Regions from separate parts of the Homo sapiens genome. Here region 2 is linked to region 1. Evidence: fine-mapped expression QTL. A gene starts in region 1. The other region holds a variant in brackets. All regions are shown on one strand. Distances are from middle to middle.

Region 1 (2,947 bases):
GGAAAATAAGAGTTCATGAGTTGAAAATTCTGCTGTAGGTAATGAAACAATAATGGAAGCAGAAAGGTTAAATAGCTTTTCTAAAGATCAACAACCAGTAAGTAGCAAAGCAAAAATCAGTATAAAATTTTACAACCTCAGGAGCTTTTAACCATATCACTGATTTTTTCTAGAGCTTTTTGTTAATGAAGTAACACTTTCTATAGACATGATGTTGTAGCTAAAGGGATAGCTCCCAATATTAATACTTAATTTTTTTTGGCTATACATTTTAAAAATTATTACCTTAAAACAAAGTAATAAAATCTCCTTGCATGCAATGGATTCTAAAATGGGTAAAGATAATACTAAAGTTGTCTAGTTGTCCTTTAATGTACTGTACTATAATTTCATTATAAAATCTGTTAAAATATTGAAAAACATTTAATATTACATTCTACATGAATTAGATTTTATAGAATTTTCTGAAATAAATACAGCCATAGCAATGTATAATAAAAGAAAGATATGAAAATAGAAAAAAACTTCAAAAAATGTTAAAACTTGATTTTTTATACTTTTCAGAATGAGAGAAACAAGTTTTTAAGTGAAAATGCATTATCAGGTAACAACTACAAAAAATCACCAGCTCCTCAGCTTGCAAAGATCTCAAGGCCAAGTGCCTTTTCCATCATCAAGGATAAGAGCACTAACCTCAATACTGATTCACAGGAAAGTTTTTATTTTTTTACTGCATTTATGAGCATTTATATAGTTTTCATACCTTAGGCAACAAAATGACAATGGCAGAATTGACCTTTTGAAAAAAAATATATTTTTACTCATTTCAAAAGAGAAATGAGTTCAGACATGGAGCTACAAAGTTCAAAAAAACAAAAAGATAAAAGATGCTGAAAATGAATGGAATAGGTACATATATTTTTAAATGTATATAAAATGTAATATATTAAAGTAAAAAATATAATTAGAGGTTAAAGTCTAAAAATTTTGAGTAAGTTGTTTGGATTTAGAAAATGTATGCTTTACTGAATACAGATGATTAATTTCTGGCGTGTAAGGGAAACATTATCTTTCTCAATAATATATTGCCCTAGTCTGTTTGGGCCGCTATAACAAACACAACATAGACTGGCTTGCTTATAAAAACAAAAATGTATTTCTCACAGTTCTGGAGGCTGAAAGCCTGAGTTCAGGGTGCTAGCACAGCTGGGTTCTGGTGAAGACTTGCTTCCTGGTTCATAGACTGCCATTTTCTCCCTGTATCCTCACATGGTGGAACTTGCAAGGGATCTCTCTGGGGTCTCTTTCATAAGAGCTCTAATCCCATTCATGAGGGCTCCACCCTCATGCCATTATCACCTCACAAAGGTTTCACTTACTAATCCAATCACATTGGGGGTTTCAATTTTGACATATAAATTTTGGGGAGGATACAAGCATTCAGTCCATAACATTATATATATATATATATATATATATATATATATATATATATATATATATATGGCTGGGGCAGTGATAAAGTGTTCCATATTATATATATATATGTTATATATGTTTCTTATATATGTTATATGTTATATATGTTTCATATATATGTTATATATTATATGTTTCATATATATGTTATATATTATATATGTTTGATATATGTCATATATTATGTATGTTTCATATATGTTATATATTATATATGTTTCATATGTATATATGAAAATTAAGCAGATAAAATTCCATTTTCCATCCTTCCAAGAAGAAGGGGTGAGTCTTCTATTAAGGATCTACTTGCTAAACTTAAAAGCCTGTTGAGAACTCAACCCTATATTTTTTGTACAATTATATTTTGGCATAACGAAAACACATAATTTATAAAATGCTCAAAGATACGTCATTTAAAAAGCAATACAAGAACAAAATACAGCATTTATATGCAATAAAGTATTGTCACAAGAATGAGGATGAATTATTTGGAATGTAACATGTATGCAATATGTTTTTATAAAATTGTGAAAAATGAAGAAGAACATAGGTCATGAATGAATGTAGATATATACTATAACACTGTAATGTAATGTGCTTAACACTTAGGTTTAAAAAAAGAGTTTTGGAAATGGTGTTAAAATAAGTTGGCTATTAATGTGATGTATTCCAAAAAGTTTTGGTTGGAAGAGAAAATGAATAAGCTGTCTTTCACACAAAACCAGAGCAAAAAATAAGTGTGTTTACTGACAATAAATAACTCCTTCTATTACACCAGAAAAGAAATGACTATGTACAGTATAGAGCTTTTTCCACAAATATGCCTTTAGTACTTATCTTTATGTATGTGCCTTACAAAAACTATTAATATAAAATATTTAATTAATTGCTATAAACGTGATGATTGTTTATGAGAGTAAAAGTAGGTCTGTTAAGTCGATGGCCCTTTATTTTGAGAAGTGTATATGTGTGTGTGTGTGTGTATGGGTGAGTGTGCGTGAGAGCGAGAGAGCGAGAAAGGGAGGGAAGGACAGGTATGTTTGTACATGCGTATGTTTGTTTGCCTGTTTGTTTTAACATTTATCTAAGATTGTTTTTTTCATTGAGGGGTTGGGGGGCGGGTGGCTTCAAATGACTTAGTCGGCTCATGTTTGCAAACTCAGGAGTAATTGCTGGGGCAGTGATAAAGTGTTCCATATAATCGAATTAAAATAATACATTGAAATTGAGTGAGGAAATATATAAATCCAGGTTAAGTGCATTTGGAAAAGAATCAGAGAGAAGAAATGCAGTGATGTTGAAGTGCAGCTGAGACTGAAGAAACAATAACATGTATCTAAAAGGGATTTTAAAATGTAATCTCTTTTATCATTTTACATAAGATAAAAATTTTCATAAAACTTAGAAATGTGCTGTCCTGTTTTCAAGTTAATGAGGAGATTTAAAAAATGCAAAGACAGGCACACGG
Region 2 (2,947 bases), 23 kb after region 1:
TCAAATATTTGCAAGTGTACATGTTTAACAACCAAATTAACTTGGAATACTATAGCCACAGATTGGTCTAAAAGGCATAGTTTTGAAAAATTATAAAAACATCAAGTATATTTTTAGGTAGCAAGATTAGTAAAATATTGTCCATGTACAATCGCCCAACTTTATCAAAAGTATCAATTTTCTGCTGCTCTGTGAGAAACCACCTCAGAATCGTGCCTTAAAACAACATTCATTTGTTTGTTCATGATTCCGCTATTTGAACTAGATTCAGGTGGGCTGTTTTTCTGGGATTGTACCTGTAGTAACTAATATGGATGCAGGAATGTTATAGTCACCCTGGAGCAGGATATTCCCAACAGTTTTAGCTTCAAGTCTGATAGTTATTTTTTTCTAGTCCCTTTATTTCCTGAAAACTGTTAAATAGGTCCATAAGCATGATTAAATATAGTTTTAATATATTTGGCAAAATTTTTAAAGATGATGATGTTTACTGCTGTTTACTTCATACCAGGAGGCACAAAATGATTGATTCTCTCACTTTTAATAATGCTATATTCGATCAATAGAGTTGAATCAAATGTGAGCCTGACCCCTCCATTGTAGTGGCTTTCATCAAAATGAGGTTAAATAGCAATTTCCAATTGTTTCCAAAAGCTGTTATTTTATTTGAGTTTTATTTGGTATTTCTCACTTCCTGGCACAAACATAAATATATGCATTATTGGTGGGCACATTAAAATATTGAGTACATCAATTTTTGTTTCATTAAAAATTCCAATTGTTATTCAAGGGACAGAGAAATGATGTCATACATAGCATTGCATAAGTGAAAGAGAGGTTACAGGATTTTCAAAATACATAACTGGAACATAAGAATGCTAAACAATACCTTTCTAAATATATAGATATATAATTACAAAAACACACAACCCAAGTTGATATTCTTTTGGAAACACTTCATTCATGAGATAAAAAAAAAAAAAAAAAAAAAAAAAAGACAATGGGAGTTCCAGGAAGGTTCAGCAAACTTTTACTGAAAGAGCTAGATAGTAAATATTTTGGGCTTCGAGAGCTCATTGTCTTTATCACAACTACTCAGCTATGCTGTTGAAGCCTGAAAGCAGCCATCATCAATGTGTAAACAAATAATTGTGCCTAAATTCTAGTAAAATTGTATTTCCGAAGCACACCACAAGCAAGATTTGGACCACAGATGAAACTTTACTGACCCATGATTTAAAAAATAGAAATAAAGGCACAAACAGAATTATAAGATGCATGGCCCTAGACATTCCCTTTGCATTGATTCTCAGTAAAGTGGATGGGACCAAGGGCATTTACTTC[C/T]CCAGGTGGATGCTTTATAACTGAACTCAACTTCTTATAGTACAAGGAGTTTCCCACACCACAATAGTTGGACATGAGCTTGGTCCCATCTTCCCTTAGGTTTTCAGTTGCCCGGTGGCAGCAATTCATTAAGCTGGATGGGATTGATTCTCAGTAAGATGGATGGGACCCAAGGCATTTACTTCCCCAAGTGCATGTTTTATAACTGAACTCAGCATCTTATAGTACAAGGAGCTTCCCACACCACAGTAGTTGAACATGAGCATGGTCCTAACTTCCTTTAGGTTTTCGGTTGCCATCTGGCAGCAATTCATAGCAGTTGTATAATAAGTGGTTACCACTAAAGCTTAGACTCTCTGGTACCTAAACATTTATTTTTGCCCCATGACCTAAAATTCTATTCTCCTATTGTCATATAGAGGTCAGTCAACTGGAGCAAGGCACTCTTTGAATGGGTGGTGGAAAGCAGAGGATCTCAAGAAGCACTTGGATCCAACACGTATAAAGTTGTTCTTGCTAACTGTTGTAGTAGCCACACCCATTGTCAGACACAATCATTTAAATGTTCTATCATTTAAATGTTCCATGTACATCTAAATGTACATGGATATTACTGATGAAGTGATTTCTCTTAAAAATTTAGAGTTTTTTGGATATATTATCTCTATAAAATTAACTTTATGACATTTTCTGGCATACATTGCTTGTTCAAAATCAGTAATTTTCATATACAGTATGCCAACAGTATGCATCAAGAATGTGAGAGTTTTAAGCAGAAAAAAAATGAGCCATCAGTTCATGTTACTGCAATTAGTCAATCAATTTTCAATAGAGATTGACTGCATTTAAATATTAAGCAATGTGTATTATTCAGGAGACATATATCTTTTTTTCTAAATCACAGTCATGTGCTGCATAAAGACCTTTGGGTCCATGACCAACAGCATATAAAATAGGATCCCCTAAGATCATGATGAACCTAAAAATTTTCTATTGACTTGACATTGTAGCCATCCTAAAGTCATAGTGCAACACATTACTCATGTGTTTGCAATGATACTGGTATAAACAAACCTATTGTACTCCCAGTTATATAAAAATGTAACACACAATTATGTACAGTATATAATACTTGAATATAATAATAAATGGCCATGTTACTGGCTTATGTATCTGCTATGTGATTCTTTTTATCATTAAGGCATACTCCTTCTTCTTATAAAAAGAAGTTAACTGTAAAACAGCCCCAGGCAAGTCCTGCAGGATGTATTCTAGAAGAAGGTATTGTTATCATAGAAAATGTCTGCTCCATGCATGTTATTGCCCCTGAAGGCCTTCCAGTGGGATAAGATGTGGAGGTGCAAGACAGTGACTTTGATAATCCTGACCCTGTGTAAGCCTAGGCTAAGGTGTGTGTTTGTGTCATAGTTTTTAACAAAAAGGTATAAAATGTAAAAGAAAATAAGATTCACATATAAAAACCTATATAGAATAAGGATATAAATAAAGAAAATATTTTATACAGTGGTACAATGTGTGTTCTAAGCTGCACTATTACAAAAGAGTCAAAAAGTTTAAAAAATTAAAAAGTATAATAAAGTAA

Evidence for each region. PIP is the estimated chance that this variant, and not a neighbour inherited with it, causes the effect.
Region 2: its variant is the best candidate, but not a certain one, in a credible set for the expression of LINC00448 in testis (GTEx, PIP 0.54).

Annotation. Positions count from the first base shown.
Region 1 is chr13:62,795,396-62,798,342 of GRCh38, forward strand. LINC00448 (long intergenic non-protein coding RNA 448) reads right to left here and starts at 1,297. Exons shown (of 8, transcript NR_047029.1): 1 at 1,165-1,297.
Region 2 is chr13:62,818,787-62,821,733 of GRCh38, forward strand. No RefSeq gene overlaps it. Among named protein-coding and RNA genes, the nearest start is that of LINC00448, 24 kb to the left of the region's middle. The variant C/T (reference allele first, on the strand shown) is at 1,345.